Linked DNA regions of Homo sapiens: all the other regions are linked to region 2. Evidence: fine-mapped expression QTL. A gene starts in region 2. Each other region holds a variant in brackets. All regions are shown on one strand. Distances are between the middles of the regions. Region 1 holds the start of NECTIN4-AS1 (NECTIN4 antisense RNA 1). Region 2 holds the start of TSTD1 (thiosulfate sulfurtransferase like domain containing 1). Region 3 overlaps F11R (F11 receptor).

Region 1 (8,000 bases), 45 kb before region 2:
AGTAAGGGAGGAAGCCTGGCTCCAGATTGCCCCAGGAAGCTGGCACCTGGTAGGAGGCCACTCTGCTGCTGCTGCAGCAGCTACAACCTGCACAGAGCTGAGGTTGCTCTGGGGGCTGGAGGCTCCTAGCCTGAGGATCAGATGGTCCTACCTCCACTACCACCCCCATTCTGGCTCTTCTGTGTGTAGACTCTCCTTAATGGCTCCCAGGAACCTGGAATGTTTCATGTCTCTGAAAAAATCCTTGGACTGGGAAGTCAGGAGTCTTGGTCCAGATCCCGTTTCTGCTATTAATCTATTTGGTAACCTTGGGCAGCGATGAAACCAGACTTCAGTAGACCGAGAGCTAGGACCAGATGATCTCTATTGACCTTCCAGCTCTGAAATACGATGACTCTGTGATGGTCCAGGCCTGGCTGAAGTGGGGTGCTGGGGTGTTGGAAGGGTCACTGGGTCTGGCTGTGGAGATAGGAGGAGGAAAGCGTTCTGGTCGCATCTCTCAGAGGGTACCAGAGTACCTTTCCCCAGGCCTTCCTGGCCCTACTGCAAATTCACCCCCCACCCAAATCCTGGGCCATTAGAGCTCTGAGCCCCAGGGCCCTGCCCCACCCCTGACAGGGAAAGGAGCCCAGGCTTGGGAGGCGCCTCAGCACCACAGCTCTTTGTCTCTCCTTAATGGGTTGAGTTTCCGGGTGAAGTCTCCTCCCTTCTCCCTCCCCCATCTCTTGCCCTGGGGCTGAGGGACCCAAATCCACGAGACACCCCTCCCCCCATTAGGATCCTAGTCCCTAGCTCTTTGTCGGGTTCAGGAGCCCTGCAGGACCAAAGGGCAAGTGGTGCTCTGCATTCTGAGGTCTGCCTTCTGGGGGTTAGGATCAGCTTTCTGTCTGAGGTTAATTTCCTTGAAAGGGAGGGGCCCATCCTTACTTTTCTACTCCTGTTTACAGAGGGGGGCAGGCCCTTTCCTGTAGGACCTACCCAAACCCAGGGAAGCCAGCAAGGGAGGTGGTGAGAACTGGGAGAATCCCAGGGAAGCCCTGTGACCCCAGTGACCTTGTTCCCACCCTAGTGTTTAAGGAGGCCGGGCCAAGGAGAGCCTAGCTACAGAGATGAGGAGGTTAGAGTTCATGATTCCATCAGCCAGACCAGAGCCTCAGGATCTGGGGGTCCTCTAGGCAAAGTGAATGGGGATTAGCTACTTTGGGGCCCAGTGAGGAGAGAATGATTGGATGTTCTAGCCTCCAAAAACTTGCCCTTGCTCTGACCGAAGTCTAGGCAGAGAGAAGGGATGGAGGTGATGTGGGGAACGAAGTCAGAAGGGAAGGGAGTAGAGAAGCCTAGGGTCTTAATTTGGGAAGAGAATCTAAATGAGGAGGGGGCCAGGCGTGGTGGCTCACGCCTATAATCCCAGCACTTTGGGAGGCCAAGGCAGGTGAATCCCTTGAGGCCAGGAGTTTGAGACCAGCCTGGGCAACACGGCAAAATCCCGTCTCTACAAAAAATACAAAAGTTAGCCAGGCATGGTAGTATACCTGTGGTCCCAGCTACTTGGGAGGATTGCCTGAATCCAAGGAGACTGAAGTTGCAGTGAGCCATGATCGCGCCACTACACTCTAGCCTGGGTGACAGAGTGAGACTCTGTGTCAAAAAAAAAAAAAAAAAAAGAGGAGGCGAAGTTCAGAACTGGGGAGACATCTGCCATGCCTCCTAAAGGAAGGCCGTGGAGAAGGCGGCTGAGGTCACTCTTTCACTGGAACAGGCAGCCTCTGGCCTCAGGAGATTTTCTCATAGTTTTCTGGCCACCCCCACCCCCTTCCCTCTAAATCTGGTGTGTCCTGAGAGCTGGAGTTGAGGCTGTGATTTGGGATGGGGCAGAGCTGGCCATGGTGGGTGGAGGGGCAGTGTGGAGCAGGGGTTAGGATCTCAGGAGTTTGGGAGAAGCTGAATCCTGGTTCTCCCACCCACAGTGTGGCTGTTGTGGTGACTCAGCCAGGCTCAGACTCTGGCTCCGGGGGGTTTAGGGGACTTATCTGTGCTGGGAGCTGTGTCTGGGCCAGAGTGGGGCTGCCTCAAGGCCTGTCCTCCCCATTGTTCTCATCTCCCTTTGTGATTGTGTGGCCCCCCTCCCCAGACACTAATCTGTGGGTGGGCGTTTTGCCCAGGCTGGGAAGCTCTCACTAAGCTGGGGGGCTTAGTACAATGGGGGGTAAGTGAGGGAGGTGGATGAAGGCGGAGAGGGAATCTTCTGGTTTTTAAAGTTCCTTAGCACTCCAAGGCCAAGGTTATGGGGCAAAGAGTGGATGGAAAGGGGTTTGCTGGGTTGTTTGTGTCACCTGTCCTGGATGGTGAGCTTCGGTGCGTCCCTCCTAGGTCCTTTCTCACCCCAGACTCACCCACATACTCCAGCTCTCGGTGGAGATTGTTGCTGTCAGGTAAGGGGAGGCAGGAGTTAACAAAGGAGCATGAGACCCTAGACAGCCTGGACCCCTCCCCCTAGCCCCAGGCAGGATTCCCCTCACCCCCCCAAACCCACACCAGACAACCCTTACCCAGGCCTGGAGCCAGAGCTGGTTTTTCTGGTGGTGGCAGCAGCAGAGCCCTGACAGAGATTCCCAGGGAGAGGCCTCCTTGGGGGGCCAGAGCTGCTGAGGGGCCCAGGGGAGTGGCTGGGGGTAGTGGTGAGAAGGTTGGCAGTCCTTTTAGTAGGAACCTGAGGAGCAAGGGGAGAGGGAACATTTGTTTTGTTCTGCTGGGGAGTCCTTAATGGCAAGTTCCCATCACCTGGAGGGACAGTGACCTCATCTCTGGGTACTTCCACCTTGAGCCTGAGATTAATATGTCTTCAAGTCTTGGGGTAAGGTGGGGAAGGATGCTGGGGGTGACATTCCAGGCAGGATGCAGAGGCAAAGGCTCACAGCCACATACCACAGACCAAGGGCAGCTGAGACAGAGAGACATGTGGAAGCCAAGATAAACCGACAGCAAAATATTTACTATGTGTGCAGAGTTCCGCGAGACAAGAATGCACTCCATGCATACAGAGGGTGTGACATGCACACGGAATCATGTGTGCACACACATTCACACATACTGATACACAGCTCTTCCCTCTGGACACAGACAAGTAAGTACGTATATGCCCCTAAGATAAGACATGAACACATATATGTGCCAAACACCCACCAGTTTATGCAAGAAGATAGCCTCACATGCGTTTGAACCAGCACTAAGATTGGCCAGGCCCTCAGCCACAGCTCCCCATACACAAAAAACTCATACTTACTCCCTTCCTCCTTCTCACAGACCCACCTCTACGATCCCCTACATTCACATCTGTAAGTCCCAGCAGGGGATACTGATGGAGAAAGGCCCCTCATA[A/G]AGAAAAGATACTTCCTTAAAGATGCTCTTGATGGCTGGGTGTCAGCAAGTGCCAGCCTCAGTTTCCCCTCCTGAGATCAGAGGCCAGGCTCACATAGGAAGGAAAGTTGAGACCCAGGCATAGGGTGGGGAAGAGCCAGCCAGCCCAAACCTGGAATGGAGGGCCTGTCTGGGAGCGGGCGGGGTACACAAAGGGCTGGGCTCCAAAGAGGCCCGTGGGGGCCTGGCCAGGGTGGGGGAGGCCAAGGGCAGGGATCCCGTCTGGCCAGTTGGGCCTGTTCTCTCCCTTGCGCAAGGTGGTGGTGGCTGTGGCTAGGCTTGCTGCTGTGAGGCAGCTTCTGAGTCACCAAGGCTCCTGACCAGCGTCCTGGTACTCCAGGGAGGAGGGGTGGGAGGGTCAGAGGGAGGAGTGTCTAACCAGCCGGAGTCCACCAGCCTCAGTAAACAATTTGCAACAGAAGGGTCCCTGGGCTTGGCCTGGCCTGGCCACCACATGCCCTCAAGGTGACCTCACCAGGCAGGCAATGTGTCTCCTTTGGTCTGATGACATCATCATGCTGACGCCAGGCTGACACTGGGTGGAGGAGAGAAGGAGGAGGCAGTCCTGGCCTGCCCTGGCCTGGAAACCTGGACTTCTGGGTCTGTTTAGACAAGGACAGGGATTCTAGGGCCCAAATTCTATTTTCTCTTCTCTTGTACCCTAGGGTGGTAGGGGGGTATGCAGCTGGAGGAGGGTGTTGCCTCAGGCTGAGATGTTCCTACTAAGTAGTGGATTTAGAACAATGAGGATCTGTGGGAGATATCCAGAAGGGAATTTCCTGTTTTACTGGGTTCCTCGGTCTGTGAAGCTTCAGTGTGTCCCCTAGGGGTGGGGATCGTGGACTCACAGGTGAGAACATGGAGGATTGACATTCAGGCATGCGCTGGGTATCTAATGCCTGCTGTACCCTAAGAAGGTATTTTCCAAGGGAAATATAGGTGATTAGTGGTGGGGAGGCAGCAGGTGGTTGGCTAGTATAGGAATAGGGATGGAAAATATGCCATCTGATATTGTCTCAGAAATAGTCTTTAGAAAGGTTTGAGTGTCCTAATGGGGCAGGTCTTGGGATCCCTGTGACCTTCACAGACACCAGCGTTTGAAGCAGAGGATATGTTGTGCTGGAGATCCCCTACCCAAGCTCACTCACAGCCCTTCCTTGGCAGCCCTGTTCTTTCCAGTGCCAGGAGGAGAAAAAGCCTGGGAGGGGTGCGGGTGGTTAGCTGGACTCCCAGGCTGGGCTGGGTGGGACCAACATTAGCTTAGGCAGGTCAGGGCTCTGGTATCTGGCCCTGCAGGTCTATCCTGTCCCATCTGGGCCCTCTCAGCATCCTTCTTCCCTCTCCTTCTGGTAGCAGGGCCACAGGAACCCCTTCCTGTGCTCTATGTGCTGCCTCACTAAAACTCTCTGATCCATTCTGGTGGGGCTTCATTTCCTCCCTCCATGCCTGCCTCCTTCCATCCCTATTTTTTTCCTCTGTCCAGTCTGGAGGTGCTCCCTTTGGCAGTGAACCCAATTAGCTAGCCCAGCCTATCCTGCCTCCACCCCAAGGTTACCATGTAATGTTCCTCCCTGGCCAGCCCAATGCTTGTTCCTCCTCATTTTTTTTGGTGGCGGGGGGATGGTGTCTTGCTTTGTTGCCCAAGCTGGAGGTCAGTGGCATGATCTTAGCTCACTGCAACCTCCACCTCCTGGGTTCACCAGTTCTCCTACCTCAGCCTCCCGAGTAGCTGGGACTACAGGCGCCCGCCACCACGCCCATCTAATTTTTTTATTTTTAGTAGAGACAGGGTTTCACCATTTTGGCCAGGCTGGTCTCAAACTCCTGACCTCAGGTGATCTGCCTGCCTCAGCTTCCCAAAGTGCTGGGATTAGGGTGTGAGCCACTGTGCCCAGCCTGTTCCTCCTCATTCTACACTTTCCTTCTGTCTCTCTCATTTATTAATTCACCTGTTCATTCATTCACTTGGTCAATAAATGTTGACGGAACCCACATACCACTGAGCACTAAATCAGAAACAATGGTTCCAATGGTGATGTGAGGCCCAGAAAATAGGGATAAAGTGCTGTGATGGGAATGAAAGCAGGGTGCTGGGGAGCACAGAGGAAGGGCACCTAATGCTGCCTGGGGTGGGGGTGGGAGGAGGGAGGACTCCTGCTGGAAATGATGTCTAAGCGGAGTCTTAAATGATGAGTAGGTGCTACCAGATATAGGGAGGAGGGCATTCCAGGCAGCGGGTACGGTGTGAGCAGAGGTGAGGAACAACAAGGTGTGTGGCTTGCTGGGCAGAGGCAGGGACAACACACTGTTGGGGGTTGCTGGGGCACGCGTTCCAAGGCAAGGAGCTCCTGCCATCCCAGCATGTTCCTTTGCTCTGCCCCCAGGCCCCAATCCCCATATTTCACTTTTGATTCCATGACTCCAAATTTATTTCTTCCCAAAAATGAACATCCTCAGGCCCTGTCTCCCTCATAAGTTACTCATCCTAGAAATTTAGGAGCTGCCTTTGAGTCTTTCCTCTCCTTCATCTCTCTTTCTGGTCAGTGACCAAATCCCTGTCAAATCTCCCCCCAGAACTGTCCCCTCCTCTCCACCCTAGCACTACTGCACCCAGGCTGCAGCTGCAGCCTTCAGTGACTGCCCCTCACCACTTGCTCATGGCACTCCCTGGCTAAGGAACCTTTAGTGACTCCCCATTTCCTCTTGACCAAGTATGAATTCCTTTGCTGGTATGGAAGTTCCCCGGTGATTTGGCCCCACCCTGTCCCAACCATATTTTCCACTCCTGCTCAACACACACACCCTGTCTTAGGCTGGGTCCTCTCCTCTTTGCTTCCTAAACAAGCCACCTTCTCCATCTCCTTGGTGTTTGCTCACCGTGGTTCCTGATTTAGAATGCCTTTCTAGGCCTCTCTCCCTCCTAATCCTACCCAACTCATGCATGGGGCCCTCCCAAATGATTCAGTCCCATAGTGATTGCCCCATCCCACAGTTGGCCTGTAACACACCCCTGAGCACTAAATCAGAAACCATCATCACATGTTTCCATATGTGTCTCCATATGTATCTCTTGCTCCTGAGCAGAACTCAAGTCCCATGAGAGCAGGGAGTGGATCCTTATTTGCAGATAAGGTGACATGATGGATAGCTCTGATTCCAGAATCCCTGAGGGCTTCATTAATATGCTAAATACTAGCCCTTTGTACTAGCCCTTTGTCCCTTGTCCTCCGATTCCAGCTTACAATTCTGACCCGGTTGTTGTGTGTCTGCCCTGATCTCATCTCTCTGGGCCTCTGACCTGGGCCCTTTCTGTCTTTAGTGGCTTGCTCATTCCTGCCTCTGAGCCTTGGTTCATGCCTTTCCTCCCACATGGAACATTTCCTGCGCTATAGGAATCCAGGTCTCTCATCTTCAAGCCATGAAAAGAATGTTCCAAAGGGCCTACTGAATAGACCCTTCCTACCCTATGTGCCCCATTCCAGACACCAACAGTTTTGGATTCTTGCCGTGGCTCCCGGCCACACTTTCTGAAACTATCCACTTTTTCCCGGTTGGTGGGTTGAACCTCTTCTGAAAGTTTGTTCATGGCTTTCCCTGTTTCTTTGTGCATAAATTCTATTTTCCCTGATGACTGTGAGCTCCCTGAGGGCAGAGGCTGGGTCTCCTGTTCTGTTACAGCCTCCCACCTTGCAACTGCTCAGGATACAATCCTAGGCTGCAAGAGGGTGTGAGCCTTCCATAAATCGTCTGTGTGGCCTTAGGCAAGCCACTTCCTCTCTCTGGGTCTCAGTTTCCTCATCTGTTAAACGGTGATAATAACGCCTACCTCTTGGGAAGGCGTTTTGTAGATTTAATAAGGTAATGAACTGAATGTGCTTTGCAAGCCCAAATGCTCCAGGAGTTCCGGTCACCTTTGCTGTCATTATCATTATGACTGTGCTCCCCCAGCTCTGGCAGCACCCCTAATGGTGGCTGTCCCTCTCTGCCCCCTGCAGGCCGGTGCCCCGCGGGTGAGCTGGAGACCTCAGACGTGGTAACTGTGGTGCTGGGCCAGGACGCAAAACTGCCCTGCTTCTACCGAGGGGACTCCGGCGAGCAAGTGGGGCAAGTGGCATGGGCTCGGGTGGACGCGGGCGAAGGCGCCCAGGAACTAGCGCTACTGCACTCCAAATACGGGCTTCATGTGAGCCCGGCTTACGAGGGCCGCGTGGAGCAGCCGCCGCCCCCACGCAACCCCCTGGACGGCTCAGTGCTCCTGCGCAACGCAGTGCAGGCGGATGAGGGCGAGTACGAGTGCCGGGTCAGCACCTTCCCCGCCGGCAGCTTCCAGGCGCGGCTGCGGCTCCGAGTGCTGGGTAAGCGGGGATCTCTGGGTACGGTCTGAGCCGCTGTGGATGCAGGGGGAAGCAGAGATGGGGACTGCAGAGATGGATGGGGCAGAGGTAGAACAGGAATAAAAAGTGGGGTCATGTTCAGGTGAGGGAGCTTCATCCAGCTAGCTATCCTCGCACCCAATCCAGAAATTCTCTCCAAGTAACCCCAAAAGCTGGGGAAGAATCCATTTATTAGGAAGTTCTTCCTTC
Region 2 (8,347 bases):
GTAGAAAGGCAGTTAACTCACAGACTTTTCCTTTGTTCTTTTAATTCAGGTGCAGTGGCTACTGGGGAAGACCCAACCAGTGTGGCTATTGCCAGCATCCAGTCAGCTGCCACCTTCCCTGACCCCAACGTCAAGTACGTCTTCCGAACTGAGAATGGGGGCCAGGTAAGGGAGGGGGCCAGGTGGCTGCAGGTGTTATCTGGGGTTGGGATTGAGGGAGGTAATTGAACATGTCTTGGGGAGACCTGGCTTGGAGGATGAGTTGAAAGAGTGGACTGTTGCAGGGGAGGGAGGTGCTAATACTGGAGTAGAGACTGGTGTGAGGTTAGATGTATGCTGAAACCTCTGTGTGGGGAAAGAAGGGAGAATGGCTGAATCCATGTCTCTGAAGGACTTTGTTTTGGGGCCCTATCCAAGGGAAGCTTTATGAGGGGCCCTAGGATTCCCAACACTTAATCTTTTCTTCTCTCTTCACTCCCTCTGCCTTCCTCTACACTTCTAGGTGATGTACAGGGTGATCCAGGTGTCTGAGGGGCAGCTGGATGGCCAAACTGAGGGAACTGGCGCCATCAGTGGCTACCCTGCCACTCAATCCATGACCCAGGTACAGGGTATGGGCTGGGGAGGTCACTAGAGTTCTGAGAAGTAAGATGAAGAAGGGAATCAGTAGGATGGGGGTGAAGCTAGGAACAGTGAGGCATCTAAGGCTGCCTTGTCCCAAAGCACTAGGCTCTCCTTTTCTGGATGTTTCTCTCTCTCTCTCTCTCTCTCTCCACCCTACCTACCACCCCAACGGATAGAAGCTGCAGAGTGGTGTAGTGGGAAGAAGTTTTTGACTGTTACCAGAATCAGTTTTCTTGCTCCCCTTCCCAGGCGGTGATCCAGGGTGCTTTCACCAGTGATGATGCAGTTGACACGGAGGGGACAGCTGCTGAGACGCACTATACTTACTTCCCCAGCACGGCAGTGGGAGATGGGGCAGGGGGTACCACATCGGGGAGTACAGCTGCTGTTGTTACTACCCAGGGCTCAGAGGCACTGCTGGGGCAGGCGACCCCTCCTGGCACTGGTGAGATATTGCATGAGGATGCTGGCTGAAAGGGCTAGAATAGGCTGTGGGACATGACTGGTAGGCAGTGAGCCTTCACTCATGACTCTTAGTGATCATTAAGACCTGGACAGGCAGTGAGTCTGGGGCTGCTCTTCTATTAGCATGTTCTTTTTAGAGGAGGGGACCAGGGTCTTCACCTCAGGGCTTGGTGAGGTTCCTACCCATGTCCTGACAGAACCTACCCTGCATCTTCACAGGTCAATTCTTTGTGATGATGTCACCACAAGAAGTACTGCAGGGAGGAAGCCAGCGCTCAATTGCCCCTAGGACTCACCCTTATTCCCCGTGAGTGACCCTTGTTTCTTCTCAGATTCCGTAAGTGGTTTTTTTTTTTTTTTTTTTTTTTTGAGACAGAGTCTTGCTCTGTCACCCAGGCTGGAGTGCAGTGGCATGATCTCAGCTCACTGCAACCTCTGCTTCCAGGGTTCAAGCGTTTCTCATGCCTCAGCCTCCTGAGTAGCTGGAACTACAGACATGTACCACCACCCCTGGCTAATTTTTGTATCTTTAGTAGAGACAGGGTTTCACCATGTTGGCCAGGCTGGTCTCGAACTCCTGACCTCAAGTGATCCGCCTGCCTCGGCCTCCCAAAGTGCTGGGATTACAGGTGTGAGACACCACACCTAGCTACCATAAGTGGTCCTAATACCTGCTAAATCTTGTATAATTCCTTAACCCCAAACTTCAATCATGTATTTTGTCTTCTTACTCTGGCCACCCTGGGCTCTGTTGTCAGGAAGTCAGAAGCTCCCCGGACGACTCGGGATGAGAAACGCAGGGCTCAGCATAATGAAGGTAGGTATGATCTGGGTGGAGCTAGAAGCTGTCTGGTGTGATCTCAGCAGTGATGTCTGAGGGGAGGAGGGATTAGGTAATTTTACCCTGGGACTTGTGGCGAGTTTTCACTGAGTCACCTTGTCCTCCACTTTGCCCCACAGTGGAGCGTCGCCGCCGAGACAAGATCAACAACTGGATCGTGCAGCTCTCCAAGATAATCCCAGACTGCTCTATGGAGAGCACCAAGTCTGGCCAGGTCATGGAAAGACCCTGGTAGTGGGCAGGATGCCTGAATTCTGCCTCCTGGTATTGTTTCCAGAAATGGTAGAGAGAGGGGCACACATGACAGTAGTCTTATCTCTCCCTGAGGTTCCTGTATCCCTGGGAGATATTATACCACCTTCCTTAGATGAAAATGAGGTCCAAAGTGTGAACCTACTTTTGGAAAGCAAGCTGGGTATCTGAAATCCTAGTTCTCATTTTGTTGACCTTATCTTGCAGAGTAAAGGTGGGATTCTATCCAAAGCTTGTGATTATATCCAGGAGCTTCGGCAGAGTAACCACCGCTTGTCTGAAGAACTGCAGGGACTTGACCAACTGCAGCTGGACAATGACGTGCTTCGACAACAGGTCAGACTCCTACCCCCAGTGCAGCCCTTCTCAGTTCTGCTAGCCACTGACCCAGTTTGACACCCTCTACTTTGTTCTCCATGGAGAAGGCTTCATCTTTTCCCCCTCACCAGTGGATGTCTGAATACATTCAGGGGCTTGGAAGTGCCAGCTTTACTACCCATTCCCTTTACTGCCTCCTTCCCATGTCAGGTGGAAGATCTTAAAAACAAGAATCTGCTGCTTCGAGCTCAGTTGCGGCACCACGGATTAGAGGTCGTCATCAAGAATGACAGCAACTAACTATGGGGATTCAGGGGCTTTGGGCCCAAGAACTGCAGATAGCCCAGGAGCAACAGCCTAATCCCGTGCCCCTTTCCTTCACTGCCCCACTTCTGGCATGGGACAGGGGGAAGTTCAGAAGGTGTGTCCTTGAACTGAGGCCCTGTGATATGGCGGCCTGCAGTGGTGTGAAACACACAATGTGGACGTGCACTGACAGCCTTGCCCACCCCCACCATGCAGCCCCTGGGCCCTTGTGCTCCTCTCGCACAATGCATGTGCTGTCTCCATGCTGGATACTGGACACACTAAACTCTGGGGCTTGTCCTGTGCTTGCTTAGAGTGCCCAGCAGAGGTTTGCTGACAGGTGATGCTCTGGCTTGCCCCAGGACTCTGGCACTTCCATTGGTTCTTCCTTTCCCTGGAGCTGAGGTTTAGATGTGCAACCTGTGGCTCAGGGGAGCAAGCTTACACAAGAAGTGAGGGAAGGATGTTTAGCAGTGGCTGGTGCCCATGAAGAGGAGATTGGCCAGTGAGAAGCTGAGGCCTATGCAGACATCTCTGGAGCCAGAGAGAACAACAGGCAGGGGCCCACTTGGGGCCTTCCCCCTTGTGGGGGTCGTTTTTTTTTTTTCTTTTCTTTTTTTTTTTTTTTTTTTTTTTTTTTTAAGATAAAATTGTTCAAAGCCACAGTTGTCTGTTTTTCTTCCTTTTGTGGGCCACGGGCTGGAAGGGAGGGGCACATTGCTCTTCGACCAGTAAGGGCTGTGCCAAGTTCAGGGTGGGGTGCTGCTCCTGCATTTATTACCCGGAGTCCTGGTTCCTGGGCCAGACCGGTGTGTCGTTTTTGGCCCAAGCTAGAGAATGTTAAGGGCTTCTGCGGTGGGTTGGTGCTAGAGGCGCCGCGAACAGGTGCTGCGGGGGCGGCGCGGGAGGCGGTGCCCTTGCTTCCGGATCCGGTCTCAGCTCTGGGAGGGAACGGGAGATGTTGCAGGCGCCGAGAGGGCGGGCCAGGGCCGCACTCCGGAGACTCGCGGTTGCTACGCGCACCATGGCTGGAGGTACCTGCGGGGGATTCCTGGGGCCGCGGTTCTCTTGGTCCTCTGGGTTGAGGCGTGGCAGGGAGTGGGGTGGCGGAGCGAAGGGGCGTGGCTGAGGGGTCTTCGTGCACACCCTACCGGGAGGGGCGCTGCCAGGTGAGGGGATGCCATGGCGGCCGTGACTCCTAGGCCCCCTCTTCCTGAAGGCTGTCGCGCCCCTTCCTCAGCGCCCACGGTCTCGCTTCCTGAACTCCGTTCACTCCTAGCCTCCGGACGGGCCCGGCTCTTCGACGTGCGCTCTCGCGAGGAGGCGGCAGCTGGGACCATCCCAGGGGCGCTCAACATCCCGGGTATAGGGTGGAGAGGGGACGCCCAGGTGGTGGAATAGAGACCGTTCAGGAGGTTCTTTGCCAATGGGACCTCATTTAGGATGGAATGGGGAAGGCACTGATTATGGGGGTCCTGCATTCCCGGGAGCCAGCCCTCAGCTTCCGTAGGAAGGACTGATGGGGGGCGGATCTTGGCATCGGAACTGGCCCATCCAGTTTGAGAAGACAGCAGGCGGAGAGGAGAGGGGCAGACCAGCTTCTCTTGACCTCCCCAAATCTGGACGCCTGAGGGGGCATCCCGCCCCGCCTCCTCACAGCTTAGGGAGTGGCTTGCATTCAAAAGTTGTCGGTTTCTGTTCCTTGAAATTGGGGTGGGGGTAGGGGATGGTTATCATATGTTGTTTGGGGGCCCCCAGGACCCAGCCCTTCCAGGCCCAGCTTCCGAACCTGAGTGCCAAATTGCTGGCTTTCCCTTCTACCCTCTCCACTCCTCCAGTGTCCGAGTTGGAGAGTGCTCTGCAGATGGAGCCAGCTGCCTTCCAGGCTTTATATTCTGCTGAGAAGCCAAAGCTGGAAGATGAGCATCTCGTTTTCTTCTGTCAGATGGGCAAGCGGGGCCTCCAGGCCACGCAGCTGGCCCGGAGTCTTGGATACACTGGGTACGGGGAGGTGTGGCTGCTAGCTGGGAGGTGATGGGGACTGCCTGTCATTCCTGTCAGTCTCTCACGCTTCTTTGTCTCCACAGGGCTCGCAACTACGCTGGAGCCTATAGAGAATGGTTGGAGAAAGAGAGTTAGGCAGGAGGCAGCTTACTGATTGCCACCCCCTGGCCCCTTAATGGCCACCTTAACTAAGGGTGTGAACGGGCTGACTTGGTGAATTGGGCAACTCCTTATAGTGTTGTGCACACAAAAGCATCAAATAAAGAACATTTAATCAAAGTATTGGAAGCACTTAATGTGTCAGGTGGACTGAAAACAGTTCTAATCTTTATCTAGACCTCAATTCAGCCCTGGATCATCATTTCGCAGCATTCATCTGCTTCCCCCTAGCACTCCCCACATGCAACATTCTAGCAGTTTCCTGAGAGGCTACAATGTACAGTTCTTCTAGAATAGCTGTTTTCAGCCCAGAATGCACATCAGAATCACCTAGTAGGTTTTTTTGTTTGTTTTATTTTTTAATTCAGAATATGGAGGGTGGAGCCTGAGCATTAGTGGCTTTATGGGCCCCTGGGGTGATTCTCATATACAGCCAGAAGCAGGTACCACTGCTGTAGACCAGAGGTCAGCAAACTATGGCCCCAACTGGCTGTGCTGCTGTGAACTTTGGTTATTGTCTATGGCTGCTTTGTCCATGGATTGAGGAGGTGAAAGGGCAATCCCAGGCCTTTGGGTGAGGGAATGGATGGAACCCTTCATCCCTACTGATGTGTCATGCACAGATTACAGGTGTGAGGAGCCTTTCCTGTGCCACCAAAACCAGGTTTCGTTTTTTTTTTTTTTTTGAGACAGAGTCTTGCTCTGTCACCCAGGCTGGAGTGCAGTGGCACGATCTCGGCTCACTGCAAGCTCAGTCTCCCGGGTTCACGCCATTCTCCTGCCTCAGGCTCCTGAGTAGCTGGGACTACAGGTGCCCGCCACCACGCCCAGCTAATTTTTTGTATTTTTTTTTAGTAGAGACGGGGTTTCACCGTGTTAGCCAGGATGGTCTCGATCTCCTGACCTCATGATCCGCCCACCTCGGCCTCCCAAAGTGCTGGGATTACAGGCGTGAGCCACTGCGCCCGGCCTCAGGTTTCTGTTTTTATCAACACTGATCTCTTATACTGGATTTAACAAATTTAATTGGTTGGCCAGGCACGGTGGCTCATGCCTGTAATCCCAGCACTTTAGGAGGCCAAGGCAGCGGATCACCTGAGGTCAGGAGTTTGAGACCAGCCTGCCCAGCATGGTGAAACCCCATGTCTACCAAAAATAAAAAAATTAGCCAGGTGTGGTGGTGCACACCTGTAGTCCCAGCTACTTGGGAGGCTGAGGCAGGAAAATTGCCTGAACCCAGGAGGCAGATATTGCAGTGAGCTGAGATAGTGCCACTGCACTCCAGCCTGGGTGACAGAGAGAGACTCAGTCTCAAAAAAACCAAAATTTAATTGGTTAAAAAGATGAAATTACACATGCTTACTGAAACAAAATTCAGCACTACACAGTAGGTATATGACTTCCCTCTAGTATAGTGTATAGTTTGATGCATAATACATTTTAAATATTTTCATGGCAGAGTTTTTACTTCTTAAGTTTGATTTTTGGAAAATGTATTCCTTAATCTGTGGAAGAGAAGATTGAGTCAGAAATGAATCCAGTTTTCTGATTTTTCATGCCTCTGAAGAACTTCTTTCAGGCATTTCCTGCATTCCTTGCCTGTCTCTCACCTCCTTTTCTTCCCTTCTGCCTTCTCTACTATACCCAGCCCTCCTACATTCATTCATTCATTTATTTATTTTTGAGACGGAGTTTTGCTCTTGTTGCCCAGGCTGGAGTGCAATGGCGTGATCTCAGCTCACCGCAGCCTCTGCCTCCCGGGTTCAAGCAATTCTCCTGCCTCAGCCTCCCGAGTAGCTGGGATTACAGATATGCGCCACCATACCCAGCTAATTTTGTGTTTTTAGTAGAGACGAGTTTTCCCCTCCACAGGTCTTTATTATAATTTGGTTATAGCATTTTATTATTATTATTGGCATAATTTACTTAACAATAAAACGCACAATTCTTGGCCCAGTATGGTGGTTCATGCCTGTAATCCTAGCACTTTGGGAAGCCGAGGCGGGCGGATCTCTTGAGGCCAGGAGTTCAAGATCAGCCTGGTCAACATGGTGAAACCCTGTCTCTACTAAAAATACAAAAATTAGCTAGGCCTGGTGGTGCTCGCTTGTAGTCCCAGCTACTCTGGTGGCTGAGGCATAGGCATGAGAATTGCTTGAACCCAGGAGGCAGAGGTTGCAGTGAGCCGAGGTCACGAGACTGTACTCCAGCCTGGGCGACAGAGCGAGACTCTGTCTCAAAAAAAAAAAAAAAAATGCACCATTTTCTTTTTTTACCCTGTGGTTGGCAGTTTATTTTAAAAAAACAACGCCCCAGTTATCACAGTTTCTTTTTAGTCCATTTTCCATAACAAAAGAAGCTACACAAAATTTGGAGGAAGATACTGTCCTTGCAGACTGACACAGTCTGCAAGAGGGGTCATGAATAATAATGATTTCAAAGCCCCTACTTTAACTCCTGAATTGGGCAAAGAATAAATGACAATATAAGAATGAATTTTGTTTGCAACAATATCATAATATAGCATTAATTATTACAGTGCAGTGGTTGTAATTAAGTTCACAATAAAATATTCTTAACCCAAACACCAGACAAACTAAAATCACTAGACTGCTCATGAACTGAAATGATCAGTGCAAGCAGTTGTTGTCTCAGTAATGAAAACCAAAATTGGAAAGGCTTTTCTGGCAGGGAGTCTCTGACATGAACGGCCCCCTCTCTGTTCATTGAGGCCCAGGCGCCCTCACTTGGAGTCTTGGTCTTTCTTTTAATCTAAAAGGGCAGAACAGAGCCCCAGCTTTTTCAGTTCTTTCACCAGGTACCCATTCTAGTACATATGCATAAGAATGTCACAGCCCCCCACAAACTCGCCATTGAGGTATCCATTGAGGATAGTGGGCCAGTTGGAATAGTCTTTTTTGTTTTTGAGACACAGTTTCGCTCTTGTTGCCCAGGCTGGAGTGCAATGGGGCGATCTCAGCTCACTGCAACCTCTGCCTCCGGGGTTCAAGTGATTGTCCTGCCTCAGCCTCCCGAGTAGCTGGGATTACAGACATGTGCCACCATGCCTGGCTAATTTTGTATTTTTAGTAGAGATGGGATTTCTCCATGTTGGTCAGGCTCGTCTCAAACTCCCACCCTCAGGTAATCCGCCCAGTCTCAAACTCCCACCCTCAGGTAATCCGCCCACCTCAGCCTCTCAAAGTGCTGGGATTACAGGCGTGAGCCACCGCACTCGACTAGAATAGTCTTTATTTTATTTATTTATTTATTTATTTATTTATTTATTTATTTATTTATGAGACAGAGTTTCACTCTTGTTGCCCAGGCTGGAGTGCAAGGGTGCGATCTTGGCTCACCACAACCTCCGCCTCCTGG
Region 3 (8,171 bases), 22 kb after region 2:
GAATCTTTGAATTGCGGCGGTTGCTCTGGGAAAATGTCTGGGTGCACAGTCTAAAGAGGAAATGCAATAGAAACCTGAAATTTCTCTAAGCGCAGCAGAGGTTCCAGCGAAGTTCCTTTATGGAATAACTACCTCAGGAGTCCTTAATACGTGTTGTTGATTGAGTGACTCTTCCCAGGGGGAGAGTGTATCTGTTGGTTGGCTGGATTCTCATCAGAGCCAGAGCTCTGCCCTCCCTCTGGCTGTGTATGAGAGTTTTTGTTTCCTTTGTAAACTCCCTTTCCTGAGGAACAATGAGGCTCACTTGCTAGGGCATGCCTCTGTCTCTAGATGTGTTTGTGTGGGGCTGAGCGTTTAGTCGGTTGGTTTGTGCGTTAGTCAACCTGTGGCAGTACCTGTGTGTTTATCTGATTCTTGAGTGTGCGTGTCGTTGTGTGAGTAGTTGTGTCAGTATGTGTTCTACATGAGTCTCCCCCCACCCCCAAGGTTCTTGTTTTAGAAAGTGTTAAATGAATGATTACAATCAGTTTGGTGTATGTAGATTCCCTGCCCTTAGATGGATTGACTGCTCATTTCTACCTTATCACAACATAAACCCTTGGGAGAGATTGGACCAGAGGCATATATCATCCTCTTTCTATTTTACTGATAAGGAAACAAGTCCAAAAGGGGAAATGACTTCAATGACAATAGAGTTAGGGGTGGAACCTGGGAATGGAACCAAACCCTCTTGACTTGCTTTTCCTTTTTCCATTCTTTGATCCAGCATCTCAGGCACCCTATAGCACAAGAACTGTTTGGGATACTGCTTCAGAATCTACTGTCTTACTTACCTTTAAACTTACTTTCCCACTAGCTTCTTCATTCATGTCTCCCTCTTTTTTTTTTTTTTTTTTTGAGTTAGAGTTTCGCTTGTTGCCCAGGCTCGAGTGCAATGGTGCCATCTTGGCCCACCGCAACCTCCGCCTTCCGGGTTTAAGCGATTCTCCTGCCTCAGCCTCCCGAGTAGCTGGAATTACAGGCATGCACCATCACGCCCGGCTAATTTTTTGTTTTTAGTAGAGATGGGGTTTCACCATGTTGGTCGGGCTGGTCTTGAATTCCTGCTCTCAGGTGATCCACCCGCCTCGGCCTCCCAACGTGCTGGGATTACAGGTGTGAGCCACCGCGGCTGGCCATGTCTTCCTTTTTTTCTACTCTTTGAGTTCCCTTTTCTTTAATTTCCCTTTTTTCCCTACCCCTTGCCTATTTTACTTCTGCCTGTATTTTAGAACTGCTAGTGACACCCATAGTCAATTTTTGGTTATGTGGTTCTGGTACTAAAGGTTTTTCCAACCTTTGTACTGTGCCAGTATTTTTCCCCTAAGCCCAGAAGTTTCTTCTGTGTGAGTGACTGTATTTGTAACAGTGTTTGTCTGTGACAGTATTTGTCAGGCTTAAAAGCTTCCTGGAGCTGCTTACTCCCTATCCTTTGCCACTGCTTCCTTTCTTTTTTCTCCCTCTAATTTCCTATATTATTTATGATAATCCTAAAATAATCATATACTGGCACTGGAAGGTCATGATAACACCATTTTGAGCTTGGAGGTGTCTTCAGGGAACCAAGCCACAGTAGTGCAGAGGGAACCTGAGATGATGTCGCATTAGCCTGTTAGGACAGTGGGTCCTGGGAAGTGACTTGTCCAGGGGATGGAGGAACTGACCTTGTAACTTTTAAATCAGGCTAGATCTGGGGTTGGGTTGGGGGAGGGGAGTGATTTGGTTAGTGCAAATGAGGATGGAAATGGGAGCTGGGCCACCATACCTGCATTCTAGCTTGGCTTTCTCTCTGCCTTGTTTGTGATCTTAGGCAGTAGCTCAGTCTTTTCATCTGTAAAATAGCAGTAATACTTGTCCCACCTTTGTCAGGAGGATCAACCAGCATAATAGTTACATTACATATACATGAAGGGATTATTTTTGGGCAGCTGTTATCCCCTGTGGATTTTGTGAGGATGGAAGAATGCCAGAATGCTGTCCCTAGCTGAGTAGGTAAAAAAGGAAGCAGGGAGATCCCAAATGGCTAGAGTCAGAAATCAAAAAGCAGGAGCTTTTTCTTGGGTGTCTAGCTTGTCCACTGTCCCTGAGAGGCGTGGATAGGTTGCCCATATGTTCTCCCTGTTCTTCATTGTGGGCTCTGCTGTCAGGGAGGAAGTAGAAAAGGCAAGATAGGACTGACAAGTCAGGCAAAGGCCTGGCCCCAGCTTGGGGAACCTAATGGAGGGGAAACCCTGACCCTGTGGGGCAGAGATCCAGAGGGTAGACACTGGGAGAGCTGGACTTGGGAAAAGTAAAACTGATGACCCAGAGTACTAGCCTCCCTTTCCCTAGGGAACCTGTCCCTTAGAAAAGGTTCAGCTGTCTACCAGGTAGGGAGAGACACAGTAGAGGTGAGTGTGGATAGGTCAACTTACAGTGTAACCACAGGGGAGAGAGGGAAACCTGGGTTGGAATGCTGGCATTTGCTCCCCTGCCCTTCCTTGAGTGTGGTATCATCACTGAAGAGTTCCGCGTGGGCAGGGCAGAACTGCTGCCCTGCTTCTGGGTCATTCTCTGAGTCCCAGTGTTTACTATTGATGTTTCTGACTCAAGCCCTTCTAGCTTTGCCCTTTCAGGGGCAGGCATACCTCAAAACCGTAGACTGGTGTGAAGGTGTGGGTTGCCCCTCCACACCTGTGGGTGTTTCTCGTAAGGTGGAACGAGACTTGGAAAAGAAAAAGACACAGAGACAAACTATAGAGAAAGAAATAAGGAGACCCGGGGAACCAGCGTTCAGCACATGGAGGATCCCGCCAGCCTCTGAGTTCCCTTAGTATTTATTGATCATTCGTGGGTGTTTCTCTGAGAGGGGGATGTGTCAGGGTCACAAGACAATTGTGGGGAGAGGGTCAGTAGACAAACACGTGAACAAAGGTCTTTGCATCATAGACAAGGTAAAGAATCAAGTGCTGTGCTTTTAGATATGCATACACATAAACATCTCAATGCTTTACAAAGCAATATTGCTGCCCGCATGTCCCACCTCCAGCCTTAAGGCGGTTTTTCCCTATCTCAGTAGATGGAACGTACAATGTCTTGGTTTTATACCGAGACATTCCATTGCCCAGGGACGGGCAGGAGACAGATGCCTTTCTCTTGTCTCAACTGCAAGAGGCATGCCTTCCTCTTATACTAATCCTCCTCAGCACAGACCCTTTACAGGTGTTGGGCTGGGGGACAGTCAGGTCTTTCCCTTCCCACGAGGCCATATTTCAGACTATCACATGGGGAGAAACCTTGGACAATACCTGGCTTTCCTAGGCAGAGGTCCCTGCGGCCTTCCGCAGTGTTT[T/G]TGTCCCTGGGTACTTGAGATTAGGGAGTGGTGATGACTCTTAAGGAGCATGCTGCCTTCAAGCATTTGTTTAACAAAGCACATCTTGCACAACCCTTAATCCATTTAACCCTGAGTTTGACACAGCACATGTTTCAGAGAGCAAGGGGTTGGGGGTAAGGCCATAGATTAACAGCATCCCAAGGCAGAAGAATTTTTCTTAGTACAGAACAAAATGGAGTCTCCTATGTCTACTTCTTTCTACACAGACACAGTAACAATCTGATCTCTCTTGCTTTTCCCCACACTGGTGAGTCACTCCTCCTTTCCTCTCCCTCTACTCCCAGGAGTGAATTGTTCCCTCCAAACTAGAAACTGGTGACTGGCACTTCCTAGTTCTACCTGGAACTAGGAAACGAGTGGCAGTGGAATTTCAGTGTCCTTTAGTCTTTGCCTTCTGGCTCCAGATCACTTTTTTTTTTTTTGAGACGGAGTCTCATTCTGTTACCCAGGCTGGAATGCAGTAGCATGATCTTGGCTCACTGCAACCTCCACCTCCCGGCTTCAAGCGATTCTCCTGCCTTAGCCTCCCCAGCAGCTGGGACTACAGGCACGCGCCACCACGCCCGGCTAATTTTTTGTATTATTTATTTATTTATTTGTTTTTGAGACAGAGTCTCTCTCTGTCGCCAGGCTGGAGTACAGTGGCACGATCTCGGCTCACTGCAAACTCCACCTCCCGGGTTCATGCCATTCTCCTGCCTCAGCCTCCTGAGTAGCTGGGACTACAGGCGCCCGCCACCATGCCTGGCTAATTTTTTCTATTTTTAGTTGAGACGAGGTTTCACTGTGTTAGCCAGGATGGTCTTGATCTCCTGACCTCATGATCTGCCCGCCACGGCCTCCAAAAGTGCTGGGATTACAGGCGTGAGCCACCGCGCCCGGCCCCTAATTTTTTGTATTTTTAGTAGAGACGGGTTTTCACCATGTTGGCCAGGCTGGTCTCGAACTCCTGACTTCAAGTAATCCTCTTGCCTAGGCTTTCCAAAGTGCTGGGATTACAGGCGTGAACCCCTGCACCTGGCCACTCCAGACCACTTTTACCTCACCATGTTGCTCTTCAGTTCCTTTGTGATCATGTCTTGTGGAGTCTCCAGCCCAGTTCCGATTCAAGATAGAGCTACTGTGATTTTTTTTAAAAAAATTTAATTAGAATAGGTTAATTGACATGGTTTTATAATTAAAATGATATCAAAGGGGTGGGGTATCTCATTCCCATGTTGCTCCTGTTCACCCCAAACCCCAATAGTTTCTAATGTCTCTTCAGTGTTTCATTTTACAGATACAAGTATATATAAATAATACTTGTTTTTTCTCCCCTTTCTGACACAAAAAGAGGCATACTACATATATTCTACATCTTGCTTATATATATATATCATGGAGTTTTGTTGTTGTTGTTGTTGTTTTTGAAACAGGGTCTCACTCTGTTGCCCAGGCTGGAGTACAATGGCATGATCATAGCTCACTGCAGCCTTTTTTTTTTTTTTTGAGACAAAGTCTTGCTGTGTTGCCCAGGGAGGAGTCCAGTGGCGTGATCTTGTCTCACTGCAGACTCTGCCTCCCAGGTTCAAGTGATTCTCCTGCCTCAGCCTCCCGAGTAGCTGGGACACAAGCGTGCACCACCATTCTTGGCTAATTTTTGTGTGTGTGTATATATATATATATATATATTTTTTTTTTTGAGATGGAGTCTGGCTCTGTCACCCAGGCTGGAGTGCACTGGAGCAATCTCGGCTCACTGCAAGCTCCGCCTCGCGGGTTCACGCCATTCTCCTGCCTCAGCCTCCCGAGTAGCTGGGACTACAGGGGCCCGCCACCACTCCGGCTGATTTTTTGTATTTTTTTTAGTAGAGACGGGGTTTCACCGTGTTAGCCAGGATGGTCTCGATCTGCTGACCTCGTGATCTGCCTGCCTCGGCCTCCCAAAATGCTGGGATTACAGGCATGAGCCACTGTGCCCAGCCTTTTGTACATATTTTTTTAATTTAATTTTTTTTTTTTGAGATGGAGTCTTGCTCTGTTACCCAGGCTGGAGTGCAGTGGCGTGATCTCGGCTCACTGCAAGCTCTGCCTCCCGGGTTCACGCCATTCTCCTGCCTCAGCCTCCCAAGTAGCTGGGACTACAGGCACCCGCCACCATTCCCTGCTAATTTTTTTTTTTTTTTGTATTTTTAGTAGAGATGGGATTTCACCATGTTAGCCAGGATGGTCTTGATCTCCTGGCCTTGTGATCTGCCCCCATTGGCCTCCCAAAGTGCTGGGATTACAGGTGTGAGCTGCCCGGCTAATTTTTGTATTTTTAGTAGAGATAGGGTTTCACCATGTTGGCCAAGCTGGTCTTGAATTCCTGACTTCAAGTGATCCGCCTGCCTTGGCCTCCCAAAGTGCTGGGATTACAGGCATGAGCCACCGTGCCTGGCCTCACTGCAGCCTTGACCTCCTGGGTTCAAGCAATCCTCCAGTCTTAGCCTCCTGAATAGCTGAGGCTATAGGCAAGTGTGAGTGGTGAGCCATACCTGGCTAATTTTTTATTTTTTTAGTACAGACAGGGTCTCATCTGTTGTACAGGCTGGTCTTGAATTCTTGGCTTTAAGGGATCCTTTTGCCTTGGCCTTTCAAAATGCTGAATGACAGGTATGAGTCACTACACCTGGCCCATATTGGTTTCTAGGGATTGTGGCCTTGGCTGTTAGGATACATCCCACCCCCCTCCAAGTCAGCTGAGTTCAATTTGCACTTGTTCTGTGGACACATAAATGGGCAACACACGTTTCCACCACACCCAAAAATAGATTTAAATGCCATGCACATTTTATGTGATAATAATGAGACTTGTTTATCACATCTGTTAGGTTTGACTAGAGACCCTGGAGATCTCTAAACTCAAACCAGTTTCTGTTTCAGAGATTCAGGAAAGACCTGGATGACCTTGCGTCCAACATAATTGAGGATGAGGTTTCACTATTGTGTGACGGTTGTGGAAAGCAGTATGAGTGAACACATACTGTGAGAGTGGATACACACTAGGGTTTTCCTGGCATTGAGAACCCAGAGTTCATCTGCCTGGACTCCCTGATAAGCAGGGTTTCTGTCTAAAGTCCGGCTGCGTCATTTGTTTCACAATGTAGGGGCGGAACAGGAGGAAGCAGCTGGCTGGCAGGAAGTGGGTGCTGGGCCCCTGAAGTAAGTCCTGCGCTGGAAGGCTCGACCTTCCCTTGCACTGGGAAGATGGGGTGGCGGGGGAGCTGAGCAGGTAGAACCGGAAATTCTGCAGAGAGGGCGGGAGGGAGCCAGGGAGTGAAAGCGAGCCTGTCTTACCCTGCCATTACCACTTTCTGCCATCCTCAGAGGACCCGAGCCAGCTGATCGACATCACTGAAAGTGCAGCCAAGGATGGCTATTTAGACATAGCCCAGCCTGTTGTTGGCCTCACAGAGCCTTCCTCTTGCTCACACATTTCTAAACTGTTCTACCCCAAACCCCGGAAAGGCCCTTCCCTGTGGAACTTCCCTGGCCCATGGAGCCTCTTGATCTTTACGAGGAGGCCAACCCTTATGGGAGTTACTTCAATCTCTACAGGGTGAGTGGTGGGGAGGAAGGGGAAAACCAGAGTGGAAGCTCTAGGTCCAGGTTCTAATTGTATTGCAGTGTGAAATTCACTTGTTAATCCAACAAACATTGGTGTTTACTATGTTCTGAGCACTGTGCTAGAGATTAGGGGGAAAACATGAAGTTAAACTGGGTATGCTGTAGCTGGTGGGGTGAGGAGGCCCTGACTCATCCTTCCTATTGCAGGGCTCCAGCTCCCTGGCAACTGGGGGGTCTTGTGAGTCTCATATGCCCAGAGGGAAGTTTGGATGAATTCTTAGAGAAAACCAGAGAGAGACTGGTTGACTGTTTTCCCTCCTTTTCCCCCTCCTCCTCTTTCTTCTTTTTTTTTTTTTTCCCTAAATGAACAACAGACACCAGGGCCTACTTGAGTTTAGAGGATGGGAGGAGGGTGAGGATAGAAAAACTACCTTTTGGGTACTTTGCTTATTAGCAGGGTAATGAAATAATCTTTACACCAAACCCCGACGACATGTAATTCATCTATATAACAAACCTGCATATGTACCCCTGAGCCTAAAATTAAAGTTAAAAATAAATAAATCGGCCGGGTGCAGTGGCTTACGCCTATAATCCCAGCACTTTGGGAGGCTGAGGCGGGTGGATCACCTGAGGTCAGGAGTTCAAGACCAGCCTGGCCAACATGGTGAAACCCTGTTTCTACCAAAAATACAAAAATTAGCCGGGCATGGTGGTGGGTGCCTATAATTCTAGCTACTTGGGAGGCTGAGGCAGGAGAATTGCTTGAACCCAGAAGGCAGAGATTCCAGTGAGCTGAGATCATGCCATTGCTTTCCACCCTGGGTGACGAGAGCAAAAACTCTGTCTCAAAATAAATAAATAAATAAATAAATAAATAAATAAATAAAATTAATTAATTCAAACGACACAAAAGCAACTCAAGGAAAATTCTTTTTTTCTTTTATTTTTATAGAGATCAGAGCCTCTCTCTTTTTAAAATTTGTTATATTCTTTTTTATGTTGTATTTCTTCTTTTATGTTTTGTTATTGATATCCCTGAGGCATAGAGATGGGATCTTTCTATGTTGCCCAGGCTGGTCTTGAACTCCTGGGCTCAAGTGATTCTCCCATCTTGGCCTTCCAAAATGCTGCGATTATAAGCCTAAGCTGCTGCACTGCACCTGGCCAG

The links.
Region 1: its variant is fine-mapped to the expression of TSTD1 in cerebellar hemisphere (GTEx, PIP above 0.99). The same link has a PIP of 0.9 or more in cerebellum.
Region 3: its variant is fine-mapped to the expression of TSTD1 in whole blood (INTERVAL, PIP 0.99).

What each region holds. Positions count from the first base shown.
Region 1 is chr1:161,079,362-161,087,361 of GRCh38, reverse strand. It overlaps NECTIN4 (nectin cell adhesion molecule 4), which reads left to right. Exons shown (of 9, transcript NM_030916.3): 2 at 7,413-7,772. NECTIN4-AS1 (NECTIN4 antisense RNA 1) reads right to left here and starts at 3,536. Exons shown (of 4, transcript NR_183641.1): 1 at 3,284-3,536; 2 at 2,550-2,710; 3 at 2,334-2,425; 4 at 1-459. The variant A/G (reference allele first, on the strand shown) is at 3,379.
Region 2 is chr1:161,034,373-161,042,719 of GRCh38, reverse strand. TSTD1 (thiosulfate sulfurtransferase like domain containing 1) reads left to right here and starts at 3,756. Exons shown (of 4, transcript NM_001113207.2): 1 at 3,756-3,840; 2 at 4,047-4,169; 3 at 4,645-4,807; 4 at 4,894-5,089. The coding sequence starts at 3,831. The coding sequence ends at 4,945. USF1 (upstream transcription factor 1) reads left to right here. Exons shown (of 11, transcript NM_007122.5): 4 at 50-165; 5 at 503-604; 6 at 874-1,069; 7 at 1,309-1,396; 8 at 1,848-1,906; 9 at 2,050-2,144; 10 at 2,390-2,518; 11 at 2,711-3,469. The coding sequence ends at 2,800. It also overlaps the pseudogene GLRX5P2. RefSeq lists enhancers at 804-963, 3,778-3,827, 6,555-7,060, 7,061-7,567.
Region 3 is chr1:161,012,320-161,020,490 of GRCh38, reverse strand. The region is part of intron 1 of F11R (F11 receptor); the gene reads left to right. Among named protein-coding and RNA genes, the nearest start is that of F11R, 4.7 kb to the left of the region's middle. RefSeq lists enhancers at 1-98, 3,989-4,586, 6,228-6,447, 6,858-7,007. The variant T/G (reference allele first, on the strand shown) is at 3,371.